Regions from separate parts of the Homo sapiens genome. Here region 1 is linked to region 2. Evidence: fine-mapped expression QTL. A gene starts in region 2. The other region holds a variant in brackets. All regions are shown on one strand. Distances are from middle to middle.

Region 1 (8,000 bases), 49 kb after region 2:
TATACCTAGTAGTATAACTTCTGGGTAACAAAGTCACAGTCACTTTTTGCAAGTCTCACAGAAAAGAACAATACCAGATGACACAAATGATGTGTACTGTGCATCTTACCTTGAGATTAGAACTGTTGGTTTACCATGCAACCACATACAGGTGGTTGACCAAAAAGGCAGTCTAGGTTGATGGGGACCGGAGTAGGGATGGTATGAGAGTTATGTAGGATGAAAAGGGGTCAAGATGTATGTGATAGGTTAGAATGTCTCTGGGAAGGAAATCTGTGAGTAAATTTGGTGTTATTATAGTTAGGAGTCCCATAGTTTTTCAGGAATTAATAGCATTTTTTACATTAGTTGTTCTCCATTTGAATTTGTAACAATGGTTTATGTTTTCTCTATATTGCAGAGGAGAAGTTTGGGCAACTGGGGGACAATTGACTGATCCTTGGCCATATAATAATAAAAGGGGACCCAGCTCTTCTAGGACTGAGATTTTCTTTGTCCCTTTCTAAAAAGCAGAAGGGAGGTACTAACACTTTACCAAAAAAGAAGGAAAAGAATCTTGTCAGAAATGGAGAATGGGAGAACATTTAGCCAAATTAAAGGCTGTATCTACTAAAAGCAATGGTGGCTCTAAGAAGATGGGTGTAGCATAACAACCCGAGGCAATTTGGGTTCCTTTGCATATAATTGTACAGAATGTGCTCTAAGTGGGTTAGTGAGCTATAATCAAACATGGTAGAGTTGAAGAATGGTGTCTGTGTGTTCTGTCACATGGTTGCACTGCACTGAGGCTTCCTGCCAAGACAGCTACAGGAATTGTTTTTCATGGGCTCTGGCTGATCTCAAAGGCAAGGCAGAAGGGTTTATAGCTTAGTGAGTTATTTTTCCTGACTCTCTAAGGAAGCTGAATATTTGAGAATTTAATACAGTTTCCTTGGCATTGTGTTGATCTTTGGATACCATATTAAGATCACATCAGGATAATGAGGGAAGGATTAAGGAATTACTGGTTTCATTTGGGATCATGTCAGATGGGGTTGTTTTTACATCTGGCATGTACTTCCCAAGTTGAATAAAGTAGTATTTGTGACAGGCTCTAGTGGAGGATGCTGGTAACATGCAGAACCAAACCTTAAATTTGCATGCTGTTATGACTTCTATTGGATGTGAGGATTTGTAGGTTATCGTTTCCACAGATGTAAAGTGAACTTATTATTCACTGTACATCTAAGTACCTTATTGACTTGATTTCTTGTCTTATTTCTGAATGGTCCCAGAATGTATGGAGATGGTGATGGGTTTTGTAGTTTTGCTATTATGCCTTTCCTAGAAAACAAAGTGAGCTTTTCATGCTTGAGTAAACACATTGATGTATTATGAAACTGTCAAGACTCTGTACAATTGGCATAAGCTCAATTATTCAAATACGTGACTCTATTGAATGGCTTTTGTGCTGGCTGATGCTTTAGTTCAGCCAGTATAAAGACATTTCAATATCTTTCCTTAAGAAATTAAATCTCAACTGCATGAGTAAAGAAATGCAAAGGATTAGTCCTGTAGTTGAGCACTTTCCTCATCATCTTGTATAGCTAATTGGTAGCATTCATTTGCTGAGATTTATAGTTCATTTTATTTTTTAAAAAAATATGGTTTTTAAATTAAAAAGTCATTCATGCATTATCTTTGTCACCCAACATAACTGCTTTTTTCTTCTTTGTTCTCTTCCTGTCAGTCCACATGCACACATGCTTTTTTAATGTAGTGTATCAGCAATTTTGTTTTCTTTTTAAGTTATATTTGCATGGTAAATCTTTTTCAAGTTCTGTGGTCTTTATAATATTTATTTTTATTGTTGCATAATATTGAATTATTTAATAATATGCAATCATTTTTCTTATTTGAAATGTATGTTTTCTAGTTTTTTATTTTTACACATAATAGTGCAAAGATGTATTTGTGCATTATTTTCAGTTATGAGGACAGGTGTCCAGAAGTATTTCAGTGGACTTGAAAAGATTTTTTCTTTTACGTATTGCTCAATTGCTTTCCAAGAGGCAATTGTATGATTATATAAATATACAATCTTTTTTACCAACAAAAAAAAGAAAGATAAAGTCTATTAAATGTTAGCATCCTACAAAATTAACATTTGGAGCATCCTGTAATCTTAGTAGAGACTTCTTCATTTGTAAATTCAATTTCTATTTTTAGCAGAGTAATGTATGCAAATAGTTTAAAAATCTAATAAGCTGTTTAGTGTGACAGTGAAAAACAGCAGCCTCTTGCCTCCTTCCCCACTCCGGTTTCTGGCTTTTGACTATTTCTGCGAATATTTGCCTCCATATTGCTAAATGACTTTTGCGGCTTGATTTTTTTTCCTCTTTGAGTTATTTATGGATTTCTTTTTGTGGAAGATGAGGCTTTAGTTCTTACAGTTTCTTTCCCATTCTCTCAATATTGACATAACATAAATTTTGGTTTTACCAATATAGATATTATAATGTTATGACTGTAAGTACTGTTCATAATCAAATTTTATATTATGATTATATATTCTTTCACTTTATATTTTCCCTGGAATTAATAACCCTCTTTCCTTTTGCTTGCTTTGTTTTCTTTATGCCTATTTCTAATTTATCACCAAACATTCTGAAAGAGTTGCAAATTTCCTTTGATACTTCCAAACATGTCAGATAATTCCTCAGGTGTGTTTTTATTTATTTTTTCAAAACCTCCCTCTGGGAGCTGTCATATTGCTGCAGTGTAGATGGGTTGCTCTTGGGGCCTGATATTCAAGCAACATTTTGGAATTCCCTTCATGATTTTATTCTGGGAATTTCCTTTGCCTTTCTCTGTTTTGTTGATTCTCTGTTTCCTGGATCTCAGGTTGTTTTTCTTTTAAGTTTACTTACATATTTTGATGGAGTCCTGAGAAAGGTGCAAGGAAACTGAACTTTTTGATACCATGCGTGACTGAAATGTTTTTATTCTGTAATCATACTTAATTGATAGTTTGGCTGGGTATATAATTTTAGGTTGGGAATAATGATTTTTTTGGAATTTTGAAGGCATTGCTTTATTGCCCTCTTACTTTCAAGGTTGCTTTTGAGTCCAGTGCCATTCTGATACCCAATTCTTTGTTAAGACCTTTTTCCTTTATTTCCTGTGCCTGGAAACTTTTAGAATCTAATTTCTGGAGTTCTAACATCTTATGGTATGCCTTGGTATGTACTTTTTTTTTCATTCATTTTATTGGTCGCATGGTGGGCCCTCTCAAACCAGAAAAAGCATGTCCTGCAGTTTCCTGTATTTCTCTCTTTCAACTACGAATTACTTTGTAGTACCTTGTGAACCGGTCCATTAGTTTTCCTCTCTTTTTTTCTCCCACTTTCCCATCTTTTTGTCTTTTTATTCCACCTTCTGAGGACTCTATTAACTTTATTTTTCACCTCTTTTATGGGATTCTTTTATCAATGCTACAATATTTTTCACTTTCTGAAAGCTTATTTCTAATTCTTCTAATTATGCTTTTTATGGTGTTATGTTGCTTCATCTGTGATTTCTCTGAGGATATTAATTATTTTTTGGTTGAGGAATTATTTTTTCTGCTCCCTGCATCATGTTTGTTTCCTCTGGGGTGGGGGGGTATGTGTTTGTGTGTGTGTGTGTGTGTGTGTGTGTGTGTGTGTGTGTGTGTGCGTGC[G/A]CGCACATTCTCTTTCTTGCATGTGGCAGTGGAGATCAGATGAGGTGGGCCTGTTTGGAAGCTCCGTGTGTTGGTGAGGCTTATAACCTGAAGCTTCTTTATAGGAAGATTAGTGTCTGCAAGTCTGTGCTCATGCCCAGGAGCCGGGATGCAGGGAGAAGAGAGGGTGGGATCTTACTGACCAGGCTTTGTCTCAGTCCCCTGTTTTTAGCATGGTTATGTTACCCCCTGCCCTCAGCTGTGCTTAGCTGTGGTAGGACTTACCTCTTCTGGAGAGGAAATTTCCAGGCTCCTGCCTGGCTCTGCAGGGTAGAGAAGAGAATATGGCAGTTTAACTGTTCATTATATAAATTTTCAATCAGTTCTCCTTTCCTCAGAGGTACCTGGACCTAGTTTCTTATTGGCTACTCGCCCCACAGGCTTAAATTTCAGCTTTGTTTCAATTTGTTTGTTAGTTACCATTCATCCCTCTGTTTTCTAGCTTAAAGGATTTTGTTGCATATCTAGTTCGCTTTTTGTACTCTTTCATTTTCTGTCTTCATGGGCTTATTTCACATTATATTTATGTTCATGTGTATATAAATTCCTTTAGTGTCATTTTAATACAGTTTTTAAAAAGTATGGGGAAAGAGCATGTACTCAGTCTGCCATGGTTGATGGAAGTATCCAGTGCAGACTTTTTAGACTGGTCAAAAATATATTTTTTGCTTGCACACATTTGTGGGATATTTATTATACTTTCTGATATACAATAATTTCTTTAAAAAATGTCTTTTTAAAATATTTTAAAATTTAAATAATATTTTTAAAAGACATTTTTACATGTCTTTAGCATTGCAGATTTAATGTCAATTTTCATAAGTCGATATTTCTGTCTACTGGATAGCTTAAAGGAGTGACTGTTCTTTAAGTTGCTCATTAATTTTTAAAAACCTTTTATTTTGAAATAATTGTAGATTGATAGGAAGTTCAAAAATAGTACTGAGAGGTTCCTTATACCCAGTTTTTCCCAATGGTAACATCTTCACAACTACAGTACTGCCATCAAAGTTAGGAAATTGATGTTGCTACAACCTTCATTAGTTTTTAAAAGACATTGTTTTACATTTCATAGTAGCCCAAAAGTTTATGATACAAACATATGTGAAATCTATGTTAAACTCTTTTGTCTTTCAGCAATTTTTCCAGCTAGTCAAATTACGAAAGCTTGGACTTAGTGATAATGAAATTCAGCGGCTCCCTCCAGAAATAGCAAACTTCATGCAGCTGGTGGAACTAGATGTGTCTCGAAATGGTAAGAAAGATTCCACTTGGGTTGCCTATTTGTCTCTTCAGATGCTGGGGGTGTTTTTAGTAAATATAGCTACGAGTGAGAACATGCGGTGTTTGGTTTTTTGTCCTTGTGATAGTTCGCTGAGAATGATGGTTTCCAGCTTCATCCATGTCCCAAATATAGCTAGATAAATATTACTGGAGGTGCTTTCCCTGATAGTTATGGGAAAACTATATGATTCTTGGGGTGAAATTAATGCCATTTTTGAATAGGTCAGTTAACTTATAGGCATTTTCCAAAAAAAATTTCATAACACAAGTTTTAGGAGACAGCTTTCTCCAAATAAGTTCAATCTGATTCCTAGAGTTAGAGAGTGGGCTGGGCAATCATTTAACCTTGTCCACTTATTTTGCTGAACATGATATTGAGGACTGGTGGCATGGTTTTTGTCCAGTGCTTGGGTGCTGCTGTGGCAAGGGAAACCTGCCCTGGGGAAGGGTTGGTTTCTCTTGGCTGTGTCTCAGTTGCTTGGTATGCTCTCCCTGTAGTGAACAGACCTGCTTGCGTTCAGGCATCTTCTGTCTTAATGTGTTTCTAATTAGGCTGCTGGTGGCTTTGCCCACTTCAATTTGTGTGGTATATTTGTGAGTTTATTTTGATTTTCAGATCCCACTATTGATTCATTTTTACTGAACATTTGAATAGGGCATCCTAATAGATACCCCAATGGGATACTCAAATGCCTTTCATTTTTAAATGGGTACCTTGGTTTAACCCTCAGTTTTATACCCCTTAGAGTGCTTCCCAAATGGGCTGGTACTGCTCCTTGTTGTAGCATATTTGATTTATTAAATTAACGTAGCAACTCCCAGTGGTCCTATCTAGTGATGGAATTCAGTTCTTGTAAGGACCCTGGTACAATTTCCTTAGGATAGTCTTGAACAAGGTCTGAATTATTTATTAAAAAGGTAATTCCTTTATTTCTCTCCTATTACATACCTGATTTATTTTGTGTTTTGCTTCTGTTTTCCTACAAAAATCTATAGGTTTCTTCTGAATTGATTATCTTTAGGTCTGTATATTTCAGTCTGATATTTTTGGCAAAAACCCCAGGTCCCAGACATATAATTCTTCTGTGGGTCATTGTTATAATACAGCAATGGTAATCAGTACTTGGTTGGAAATATGGTGAAGAAAAAAATGATTCCTCCTTTCTAACAACTTCTAATAGGTTTTAAATTGTTTTTATCTGTTACATTCCATAAATTAGAAACTGTCTTCTGGCTTAGCCATGTGATCGTGACATTCTTCTATTTTGCATGAAAATTATTTCTTACTTTGAAGGTACTAGAAAAAGTAAAACAAAACTTTTTTGGGGGAGGGTGTCTTGTTTTAGAGTGGCTTATTTGGTCGCAGGGAACCCAGATCTACTTAGATAAAGTGGATTTGATTGTAAGGAAGGCGGGGTGGAATTAACATGCACCAAAAGCAGTGGCACCAAGCTTGCATTTGACACTATCTTGGGGGTTTCATGGCCTCTTTTTTCCAGTGTGTCCACTTCTGTTTGTGGGTTCTCTGTTCTTCCCTCCTCACTGAACTGCTCTGTTGGAACTGGCTTGTGGTGGCCTCTTTTTGTGACTTCTCTTTACGTACAGTTTGACTTTTGCCCCTGCTGCAGCATTTGTTTGCCAGTGAAGGATTTCTCAGTGAAGAGTGGTTGACCCAACTTATCTTTTTATGCCAATCATAAGACATAGGGTACAGGTCAGGTTACCAGCCACCCTAAAGGTTGGCTGCCCTGGGAGTTGGATGGCAACCAGTACAAAGCATGGCCCTGCCCCTCAGCACAGAAGTTGTTGATGAGCAGCTTCGCTTACACTGGAGTATGGGGTGGGGTGGGCATCTGGGGTCTGGCCAGGCCAGAATTGCCTCAGAAACTAGCCTGTATAATACTTTCCCAAGGTATATGTGATTGAAATGATTCTCTTGTCCTAGCAGTTACCTAAGTTATAAAGAATGACTAGCTATTAACTCTGCAAGGAAGCAGTGACTTTGTAAAATGGTCACGAAAGTCACAAAATCTGAAGAAATACATAGCAATTTTGAAATGGGGATTAGAAATAAACAGAAATACTTAAGAAAGACGAAAAGTTTTGGCTCTGACTATTTGGGCGGAAGGAAACCATACAGCTCAAAAGTTCCCAGTCCCGTAATTAACTCTAATGGGATGCTCCGTGGGAAGTCAGCACTAGTCAGCTGCCAGTTTTACCAGTTCCCACATCAGCTCTTTTCAAACATTTGTAGCTAGAAAGAAGGGCTCCATGCATCTTCCCGTGTGTCCCCTTACCTTCCAGCACGTTGATAAAAGAAACTAGGCTTTCACTGAAGACAGTATCAGGACACAAAAATGTTTCTGCTCCTTGGAACACCTACCCTGCTTTTTGTTGTTGTTGTTGTTGTTGTATTTTTCCCCGCTCACTTTCAACCTTTCCTTCTGCAAGTGTTGGAGTTTTGTGAGGGATCCTGCAGAACGTTCACCTTCTTATCCAGCTCTCTTAGAAATGCCGAGAGGGAGTTAACCATTCCCTTCCCTTCTTGACAGGGCCTGGCTCTGGCTCAGTAGCATTATGTGTGTGGTGGATGTGGGGGTAGAGGGGAAGACAGCATGGAAGGTTCAGGGCTTTCCTGGAGGTTATTAAAAGAAAGAGTGAACCTGGGCTGGGTGCGGTGGCTCACGCCTGTAATCCCGGCACTTTGGGAGGCCAAGGCGGGGGGATCACTAGGTCAGGAGTTCGAGACCAGCCTGACCAACATGGTGAAACCTCCAACTCTACTAAAAATACAAAAATTAACCAGGCTTGGTGGCACGTGCCTGTAATCCCAGCTCCTCAGGAGGCTGGGGCAGGAGAATCGCTTGAACCCGGGAGGTGGAGGTTGCAGTGAGGCAAGATCACGCCATTGCACTCCAGCCTAGGCGACAGAGCAAGACTCCGTCTCAAACAAACAAAAGAAAGAACGAATCTGTGC
Region 2 (11,252 bases):
ATTACAAAGTAGACCTTGGCCTTCAGTGAAAACAATGTCTATATTGATTTAATTTATATTGTAGGAACTGTAACAATAAAATAAGAGTAACATAAGAAGAGACACGGCTATATGATTTTCTTAAACCTTTTGTGGATGAAGGTGAAAAATAAATGAGGCATCTATGTTTACTTAAATGATTAAAAAGTACATTTTGATCAGATGAGGCAATGTATGCTAATGTACTCTTTTTAAACGATAAAGCATTACACAAATGTAAAGCATTGCCACAACCTGAGCCACCTCTAAGCTTCACCTTCCTGTTTTATCAAAGAAGGAGACCATGAGGCTGAGGCAGAGGCCTGGAAAAAGATGGATTCAGTGGCAGATACCTGGTTTTGATTTGGCTTCTTTGATATAGTCTCTTTCCTACTGAAATACTTTACCGTCTCATATCAACTGATATGATAATTTACATATTGTTTACCTAAACAATGTACTCACATGATAGGCTTTCTTTTGGCTGGTAACTGAGCAAAGAGTATTGACAATGAATAATGCCTAATGTGTTGTGTTCTGCAGTATGGAAAACTTTTTCCACTACATTAACCCATAATCCTCTCAAAAGCCATTTGAGGGTGGCATTTTTCATGCCTTTGTAGAAATAAAGAATATTGGAGTTAAATATGATTAACCCAAGATCTCATCCCTAGTAGTGGCAGATCCAAAAATTCAATGCAAAATCATGAGTTCTTTATACCACCCCACACTACAGGTAGTTTTGGCTCATTTCCACCAAGGCAAAATGCTGTTCAATATTTGACTCATCATGAGAACCTTTATAAGGAGATTGAGAAAAACAGAAAAGCAGAAAACTCAATTTGCTCATTTGTAACTCCTATGAATGGAGGGGTAGATTAAAATCTTAGTAATAAGAAAATTTGGATTGTCCACATACTCTTACAATCTGTGAAGCTATATAAACAAATGATTACAATTTATAAAAAACAACTGAATGGTTACTACATGACCAACTTTCCCACAGATAACAATTACAGTGCTGAACAAAATGCAAAAATCAACTATCTGAAGGTACTGCAGAATGGCCAAAACCAAGCAGCAACTGAAGGAAAATCTATACTAGGAAGAAGAGTGAATTTTCTGCTTTTATGACTTTGACAAGCATACACTAGAGTCTATCACATAGATCAGCTAAAACTCATGTTTAGAGCAATCTGGCTCAATGTATCATACATCAGAGTTGGGGTGACAAAGGCACCTTGAAAGTGAGAAGCGGGAAACCTCAGACAGGATTGAGTGAGAACAGAAGCTCCAGATTCTGCATATAAATCGTCCAAATATTTGACTGACCGCTAAATTATGCATGTGTAGTTCAGCTTTTAAGCAACCTAATTAAGAATAAAATAACTGAACACAAATTTCAGCTGCCATGTACCACAGAGAAAATAAGAGTTTTTTGTTTTATTTCATCCAAGCTAACAGGCTGCTAAAACAAAACAAAACAAAAACACTCTTTGGAGGAATATAACAGAATCCAGAGATTCTATTATTTACAATATCCAGGACATAATCCAAAATTACTAGGTATATGAGGAGACAGAAAAATGTGACCTATACTTAAAAGAAAATGCAATCAAGGCAGAATGACTCTAAGATGACCCAGGTTTCAGAATTTGCCTACAAAGAGTTTAAAGCAGCTATTATAACCTTAATCAAATATGTAAAGGAACATAAACTCTTAATAAATGAACACATAGGAAATCTCAGCAGATAAATGAAACTATATAGAAAAAGAACCAAATGGAAATTTCAGAACTAAAAAATACACCATCTGAAATTGCATTTCTGATGGGCTTAGCAGCAGTTTGAAGATGACAGAAGAACCAGTAAACTTGAAGCTGGAACAGTATATATTATCCAATGTGGAAAACAGAGAGAAAAATATCAGGGAAAAAAGAGGCAGAACCTCAAAAATATGTGGGACAATATCAAGAGGTCTAACATTTTAAAAATTGAAGTATTAAAAGGGAAGAAGAGAATGGGCAAAAAATATGTGAAGAAACAATGGCTGAAAATGTTCTAAATTTGGTGAAAGTTATAAATTTACAGATTCAGGAAGCTCAGTAAACCATAATCAAGATAAATACAGACATATACTAATTAAACTACTAAAAACCAAGAACAGAGAGAAAATCTTAAAAGCAGCCAGAGAAAATGGTATATTACATACAAATTAGGTCCAATTTGAGTTATTGCTGACTTCTCATAAGAAATTAGAAAATTGATTATTTTTAGAGTGCTGAGAAGAAAAAAAAAACCAGCAAACTTGTCAACCCAGAACTGTATACCTACTGAAAATATTTATAAAGAATTAAGGTACAATAAAGACATCTGCAGATAAATCTTTAACAAACTTCCAGGTGAAGAGACATGACATGAGACAGGAATGAAGAGCACTGGAAATAAACGTGTGAGTAAATATAAAAGACAATTTTTTCCTCTTATTTCTTTAAAATACTAAAGAATTTTAAAAGAAAATATGAAAAATTTTGTGTGGGGTTTATAACATATAAATGTAATCTGCATAAAAATTGTAACATAAAGCACCAGATAGTTGACAAACGGACCTAGATAATTGCAGGAATCATATGCAAGGGTTTATATGAATTGGTATATTTACTCTAACTGGACTGTGAAAATTTAAGGATGCATATTATATTCCCTAGAGCAATCACGATAGCTAGAAAGCCAATAGATAAAGTGAGATTATAAAATATATTTATTTACTTAAAAGATGTCAAAAAAGGAGGAACAGAGGAACAAAAATCAGATGGTACACATGGAAAACAAATAATAAAATAATAGATTTAAGTCCAAATCATCTGATAATTATATGAAATGTAAATGGACTAAACATTTCAACCAAAAAGCAAGGGATGGGGACAGAATTTCAACTTAAATAGTAATATGAATCAAAGAGATTTTAGGGTAATTACTTTGGTTCTGATCATAAACATTGCTGACTTCTAAACTAATGTATCCATGTAATTCTGCAGGCTCTCAGGTTTCTCAAATGGTTTGAGTGTAGCCTTCCCTTATAGCACAGATACATAATCTTCAGGAAATATCCATAAACTCAACCTTGGAGAATCATGAGTTGGGATCTGAGTGCTTCTTCTCTGAGAGAGGGCTTTGGGATTCATATACAAATTGACCTATCTTTCTATTATCCAGATTTGTATATCATTAAGATTTAATTTGCTATTTGACCTGTTATCTAAATACCTCAAATAATCTCTTACAGGACAAAAAGTCATCCTCTCTAGATCAAGAAAAAAAAAGCTGTATCACACTACAATAGTACTATGATTTATAAGTTCCTTGATAGCTGCCTTTCTTTCAGTAAGACTGAAAGCCCTGTCTTGTTCTTTTTTGTCTCTCCAGCAAATTAACCCAGTGCCTGGCATGTAGTGAACAAGTAAATATTTATTGAGCAACTAATACAACATGATCCCTAACCCTAGATGTAATTTGCAACTTGTTGGATACATTCACCTGTATACTTTTTAATTTTTAGAATTAATTTTAGTGATATATATATCTTATGTAATAGTTTCTTATTTTAACTATACAGTCTGATGAAAAAAGTATATACCCACATAACTACACCACAATCAAGATATATAATATTTCCATCGCCCACTTCCCCTACAAATTCTCTGTTTTTCATCATCAATCTTTATCACCACAATCCCTCCTACAACCCAACTAACAGGTTCTAGACCACTGATTTAGGTTGTGTCACTTTATATTAGTTTGCATTTTCCAGAATTTTATATACATGGGATCATATAGTATGTACTCATTTGTGTTTGCCTTGTACACAACATAGTTTTTGCGATTTATGCACATTGCTACATGTATTAGTAGCTTGCTCCTTTTAGTTGAATGCTAGTCCATTGTTTCACTATACTACACTGTATCCGTCTGTTGATGAATATTTGGATTGTTTCCAGTTTGGGGCTATTATTAACAAAACTGCTATGCACATTTGTAAACAATCCTTGCTTGGACATATGTTTTCACTTTTTCTTGTGCAGATACCTAGGAGTAGAATGGGTAGATCATTAAGGTAGGCATATGATTACAATAAACTGCCAAATTGTTTTACAAAGTGGTTTTACCATTTTACACTTCCACCAGCAGTGTATGAATTCCAGTTGTTCCATTTTTTTATTTGTTTGAGACAGTGTCCTATGCTGTTGTCCAGGCTGAGTGCAGTGCCCAGCTCACTGCGGCCTCAAACTAACTAGGAGGCTCAAGTGATCCTTCCACCTTAGCCTTCTGAGTAGCTGGGACTACAGGCATATGCCACTATGCCAGGCTAATTTTTTATTTTTTGTAGAGGTGGGTGTCTCCCTATGTTGCCCAGGCTGGTCTTGAACTCCTGGCCTCAAGCGATCCCTCCACCCCATTCCGCCTGGGCCTCCCTAAGTGTTGGAATCAGGTGTCAGCCACTCTGCCGGGCCAAGTTGCTCTATATCTTCAGTAACATTTGGGATTGTCTTTTTTTTTTTTTCTTTAATTTTAAGTCATTCTAGTGGTTAGGCGGTGGTATGTCACATTAAAATTCACATGCCCAAACCTCTGAATCCCCATTTACAAGAATCCCTATCTTACACGCTAACACTTTGGATTTTCACTTAAAAAAATTAATGATATCATGCTCAAAAAATTAATGATAAAGCAACAACAGACCACTAAGTATTTATCATTCTCCTAACTTCAGAGAGTAAGCTTCATGAGGCTAAGACCTATCTTGTTTTTCTTACATTTCTAGTATCTAGCACAATGCCTGGTGCATAGTATGTACCTTTATTAGTTATTTGTTGCTGTGTAATAAATTACTCCAAATCTTAGCAGCTTAAAGCAACAAACATTTACTGTCTCACATAATTTCTGAGGGGCAAGAGTGGGGAGCAGCTTAGCTGAGTGGTCCTGAGTCTGAGGCTATCATGAGGTTTTAGTCAAGCTATCAGCTGGTGCTGCAGTCACTTGAAGGCTTGACAAGGGCTGGAGAACTGGCTTCCAAGATGGCTCACTCACATGACTACTGCCAAGAATCGTCAGTCCCTTGCTAGTTGTTGTCAGCAGTCTGCAATTCTTTGGCATGTGGAGCTCTAGATTTGCTCAACATGGCAGCTGGCTTCCCCAAAGTGAGTGATTCGAGAAAGAAAAAGTTGGTTACATAGACCAACCAGGAGATGGTGGATGTTGTCCCTAACTTCCTGGAGGCTGGCTAATAAAGTGCATAATTAATATTTATTGATTAAAGTAATGTGTGTCTGATACTGTACTAAGCATTTTACATATGTCATTTCATTTAATCCAGATAACAATCCCATGAATCATCCTCATTTGAGATATGATAAAACTGAGGCTTATACAAGTTAAGTAAACTGTCAATTTCTACGAAGCTAGTGGCATAACAAGAGTTCAAACACAGATCTCTTTAGCTCAAAGGCTGTGAAAACATGGTTCACAGTACAAATGAATAAAAGAATTACATTATTCTAAGAATAAAGTGATTTAGGTGGTCTTTTTAAACTTTGTTTAAATTGAGTCAAACTCATTTGTATGTGGCGGAAGAAACTAGATGTTTTATCAGGCGGGAAACCCTAAAATTCTTCAGGTGAGTAAAAAGTTAATTGCTTCCCTATTCTGTAGTTGACAAGGTGTTGTTTCATTTTTTCTCTCTTACTACGCTGTTTCAAATTCTTGGCAGATTATTGGAAACAAGGAAAGTCAAGAATTCTCCCAGTGACTACCCATAGAATTAAATCAACAAAAACTGTTGATCATTGACTGTGCATATGGCACTGTGGCAGCTTCCCAGATCTACAAAGCAAGTGAGACAGTATCTGTTGTTTAAGAGGTCATAATCTCTTTCGGATTAAGGTGATACAAAAATAATAACACAGAGAAGCTGAAGCATCATGGAGAGGCACACAAGGAATGCTTATTGAGGTCTGAATTTTTAAAAGACTGGACACGTCTTTAAAATACATTTGGTGTTCGTTAAAATAATCTAGTGTGATAACCTCTGGAAATCACATTATTTTAAATGGAGGGAACTAGCCTTCTTTAATTTTTTTTTTAAAAAGCAGTTGGAAAACTTGAAGACAGGGACTTACTTACCTTTCCACATGTCTCTGTCAGGAACCAGTTTTCTAGGAAGGGTGGCAGAAATGAGCTTCATATGTTTCTGGAATGCAAGAATGTAGAAAGGGGGGTGGAGGTTCAAAGTCCAGGTAGCCCTCTGTGAGAACGCAGGAATCAAATCAGGACAAACAAAAGAAGGGTGAAGTGGGTAGGGCAACGGAGTTTCGGGATTGACTGGAATGAGAGTTAAGGTGATAATGCTGGGGTGGAAATGAAAGTCAGACCCCTCCTTACGGACTGGGAAGAAAGGAGCCCTCCTAGTAAAGTTGAAAAGACCAAGTGTCCTCTTCTCCATTTCACCGGGGAAACGCTCCTGTGCCTAGTCGTAAGGTACAGGAGAGTCTATGGAGCCCATGGAGAGTCTAATGCAAAAACTAGTTTCCGACCAAACTTTGCCTTGGCCACTGAGCATGCTCAGCTTTGTCTTCTATAGAAAAGTGAACTCCGTGGCTCCAGATTTTAGCTATAGCAGCTGGAGGGCGGGAGTGAGTGTGGGAGAGCCAGCGTGGCAGCGGCCGCAGGTGGAAACCTGGAGTTTGAGTATGCTTGAAAGGGAAAGTGTGGAACGAAGGGGCGGCCGGGTGGGGAATCAGAGAAGCCCCCAAGGAAATGATTCATCATTGTGATTGACCTTGACTTTAGCAACCCTTCATTAAAGGAGAAAATTTGGTTATTCGGAGATGGGGACTGTGTTGCAAACAGTTACAGGCAAAGAGGGGCAGTTCAGGATTCCGGCCGTGGTCCGCAGGAATGAGTCGGGGCGAGGGAATGGTTGTTATAACCCAATAGTGAGCCTCCCCGGTCATCCGGGCTGGACGGGACTGGGGTTGTAGCAGAAAAGCAGGAGCTGTATGGAGGATGCTCACCTGGCAGCCTCGATCTGCCCCTCTTCCCTCGCTCCTCCCTCCGCACCAGCCACAGCTAGTTGTCAGGGGCCAACATCTGGGCCGGGCTGGAACTGGCTCAGAAACTCGCGTTTGCCTGCTTATTTCTGCAGCTGGGCTCCTTGCCAGGTGCAACCACATCTATGAGAATCTCGCAGACTCTCAGACTCCTATGCCTTTGCTGGTACAGGGAGGAGGATTTACTATCACTCACTGCATAAACCATGATCACCAGAGATGTGCTCCCAAGTTACAAAGCCTGCAGGCGGTGCCCGAGGACCAGAGGGCCGGGCGCGGCCAGCTCACACTTCTGGGGCAGCCGTGAGCAGCGGGCACACGGGCAGCCACGAAAGCAGCAGCGAGGGTGGTGCAAACACCTCAAAACTACACCGAATCCAGTAGCGCCTGGCGCCCCCGGCGCGCAAGGTACGCTTTGGGGCGGTCCTGTGTGACCCCGGAAGAGAAAGTTGTTTTGGGGAAGGGGAGCAAGGAGAGGAGTGCGAGTTAAATAAAACTAAATATCAAAGTTGTTCTGCTCTGCTCAGGCCGCCTCTACTCCGCCTCATCTTTGTCCCAAGTCCTTTCACAGTCTGCCTTCCTCAAACGGCCCGATGCGCCCCCGTCTTTGCCGGAGTAAGCAGACCGCCAGCAGCCGGCCCGCAGGTCAGTCGACCCTCTCTGGATGCAGGTCGCCGGGAAAACCCGGAGCGGAGCATCCCTCGGGCCGGGAAACGCCCTCGGCGCGCACCCACTGGCGCGCATGCTCAGTCCGCGCGGCGGCTGCGAGTAGGAAGCTCCGCGCGGCGGCGGGGGCGGCGACGGCGACTGGCGGGTGGGAGTGGAGGCACCGGCTGGCGGGCGGGGGTACAGGGACGGGGCAGGGGCTCCCGCTCCAGGTTCCTTGAAGCACTTCCGACCGCGAAGCCCGGCGCGAGAAGCGAGCTAACCCAAGAGCCAACAACGAGCGCGGAGAGGGCAGCGGACTGAGCGGAGCCGCCGGCCAGAGCGGGCTCGGAGCCCGGGTCTCCGCCGCTCGGGACCCGGCTAGGCGGCGGCGGGGGCGGCGATGTTCCACTGCATCCCCCTGTGGCGGTGCAACCGTCATGTGGAGAGCATCGACAAGCGCCACTGCTCGCTGGTCTACGTCCCCGAGGAGATCTACCGCTATGCCCGGAGCCTGGAGGAGCTGCTGCTGGACGCCAACCAGCTCCGCGAGCTGCCCGAGGTAAGGGTCCGGCCTCACCTGAGCGCTCTGCCCGCTCGTCTGCTGTCCCTTCCGCTCCCATCCTCTCTCGTCCCCTCTTCCATCTCCGGGTCCGGCGTGAAGGAACCTTCCCTCTTTTATGCATTCACCTGCTTCTTTCTCCCCCTGTCTCTTTACTTCCATCCTTTCCCAGTAAAAGTTCCTTTTCATTTTATTCAAAGTGACCGGATATTTTGCGCGTAGTCACTGGGGCTCGTGCTATTGGAGAAGCGTTCTGGACTGTTAAGTAACTTAGATCCATGCTAGGTACTGACACCTGGCACTTGTGCCCGGTCAGGTGAGAAGCCGGGTGATTCGGGCTGTTTCCATCTGGAAGCTACAGAGCACTGCATCCTCCCCCCCTCCACTCCCCGGGGTCGTTCCCCCACCAAGGGCCGGGCGCGCCTCTCCTTTAGTCAAGGCATGTCCCGGAGGACCTTGTGACCTGGGCAGCGCTCAAGCGGGCCGCACTATCTCGGCATCTTGGGAGGAATGAGGAATGTGCTCCGTGCTTTATCGCGGGTGGGCTTGGCCGGCTGGCCTGCGGTGGCTGCGGGGGTGGACGCGAGATGGGCGCAGGGGAGAGCTGGGCCTGGAGCGCTAGGGGCAGGTGCCCAGATGCCGGCCGCCCGGGCCTTGCCTACGTGGACCTGTTGCGTGGTGGGAGCTGCGGTGAACGTCAGCGGAGGCTCTGCCCGCGGGCCAGCCTTGCAGCCGCCTTTCCCGGAGCGGGCACAGTCGTCCTGCTGACTTTCTCTCCTTGCAGTGATGCGTTATCTCTTCAGAGTTGTTTATGTAAATTGATCACTCCATTGCCGCCGAACTTGTCAAGCGACATGTGCTGATGGTGCTTTGACCGAGAGTAGGGGTACAGCGAACTTCTTTCAAGCTTGCCTCGGGAACTTAGCTAGAGTAACCCCTCGGGGAAGGTGTCTCAAACCCAGGTGTGTGCAGGAAGTCGGTGTGCAATAATCCAAAGGTGTGCAGGAAGTAGGGAGACTGCTGGCAGTCGGGGATTGGACCTGTTTTAGGCCTGAGCTTTGGAACGCAAACTTCTTGTTGCCCTTTAGTTAACACAAGCCAAATCATTGTCACAGAAACACTAGTCAAGTGTTCTGACTTGTTAGAATGACCTGATACGTTCTCCAGCGCTGATGGAGCATTTAAACAATAAGAACTGTGTGTTTTTCTCAATATTTTAAGTGGTGGTGTTCTTCTTGGATTAACTTTCCTGGGTTCATGTGGAATTGATTGGATGTTTGCTCTGTGTAATCATGGAGATTATCCTCACTAGGACCTTTGCAAAGCCCCCCAGGCTTTATTTAGCTTAGAAGCAGCAAAGCCATCAAGTTCCCTCAGGCGTTTATTATTTCGCAGGCATTTTCAAACACATGATTTTTTTCTGGCCTTTTACGTCCTTGAAGATTTCTTACCAGTCGTCAGCTCCCTCACTGCTTTAAGTTGTGTAATTTTAGGCAGTGATATCACCAGGAATATAGAATATGTAATTTAATAGTTTTCAGGGGCTTCAGGATGACATTATTGAAGATGGAGTGAAAAGTTATTCACTAGAAATGATTCATTGCTCTTTGTGGTATTTGTTTTTTTGTTTTCTTTTGTAGAACTGGAAGATTTCCTTTGACTGGATTGGCTTTTCACTCCCTTCTGCAGGGTTTGTGGGTTTTCCTGTAATGTTGGGGAATTCAGCTTGGCATGGGAAATTACATAATTTCCCATGCCAAGCCGAAATGTCAGGTCTTTCTGTGATCCTAAATGGAAACTTGTCAGAATCTCAAAATATAGTCTGATGGCACTCTGTAAATATGGTAAATAAACAAGCTTTTCAAAGGTTACAGGTGATCTTGCTAATGGATTATTATTGCTCTAACAGCTGTTAAATTAGTATTAAAGTTTTTAGGTTGTGTAAAATCTACTTCTCCCTGACTTATTGTGTGTCTTGGTGCCTGGGTGTGTACATGCCAGACATGAGAACCACCTTGCAAACATAGATATCTGTTCCATCCCTTCCATTCTTTCCTTGGGCTATCTGTTGTCTCACCTCTGAGATCTGTATAACTTATTACCACTGGTCTCTGCTGCTCCTGCTCCAAACCCCTGTCTCCTTACCTGCCACACACAAGCGCATCTGTTTTGTTCACAAGCCTCAAAGGTCCTTATTTTGGTGGCCATACCAGCTGTATGTTCTCCTCTCTATAATTTGTTTGGAAGCACAGCTTAAGGGGAAGCCGGTACCCCTTACCAGGGCAGCAAAGATGCACTCTCCAGGTTTCAGTGTAATAACAGCCACCTTCTTTCCACTGAAAGGCCTGCAACTTCTGGTTTGCGCCAATATCTTCCTTTTACAAATTCAGATTCAGAATTGAGGTGACTTTCTCAGGGCTGTCCAGTGAGTTAGATGCAGTTGCTGGTGGGTCTTGTTCATTCAGATGTCAGCCAAATACAATTGCTTTGGACACCTAGCAGGAATCTTCTATCCTGCTTCTCACACCCATCAAATCTTTATTTAGTCTCTCCTGTTTTACTCATGTCATTATAACTTAGCCTTAGCCAAGCATTTATTGAGACTCCATTATTTACAAGTTATTGGGAATATAGAGATTAAAGGAGGCATGATTCACATCTTTGGGAGGAAGCAGATGATTTTAATCCAGATGTAGTTAGTGTGGGATGGAAAGGACACCACGGTTAAACTACTCCTAAGCTATGGACTTGATGGTTACTTCCCTAATCTTTTAACCTTTTGCATCAGATCCCTCATCTTCAGTTTGGTTGCAGTTGGGTGATAGCCTCACCATCCTTTTTGCATCCACCTACTTCTCCCCCATACCCGCAGTTTGATCCTTTTTGGCTCTGTGCTAACAAAGGCAGTCTCACTGTAACCT

What was found. PIP is the estimated chance that this variant, and not a neighbour inherited with it, causes the effect.
Region 1: its variant is fine-mapped to the expression of LRRC1 in anterior cingulate cortex (GTEx, PIP 0.97).

What each region holds. Positions count from the first base shown.
Region 1 is chr6:53,837,234-53,845,233 of GRCh38, forward strand. LRRC1 (leucine rich repeat containing 1) reads left to right here. Exons shown (of 14, transcript NM_018214.5): 2 at 4,877-4,994. Among named protein-coding and RNA genes, the nearest start is that of LRRC1, 46 kb to the left of the region's middle. The variant G/A (reference allele first, on the strand shown) is at 3,701.
Region 2 is chr6:53,787,085-53,798,336 of GRCh38, forward strand. LRRC1 (leucine rich repeat containing 1) reads left to right here and starts at 7,921. Exons shown (of 14, transcript NM_018214.5): 1 at 7,921-8,331. The coding sequence starts at 8,173. LOC124901333 (a long non-coding RNA gene) reads right to left here and starts at 6,591. Exons shown (of 5, transcript XR_007059619.1): 1 at 6,457-6,591; 2 at 6,199-6,265. RefSeq lists silencers at 6,612-6,741, 7,787-8,026 and an enhancer at 7,993-8,705.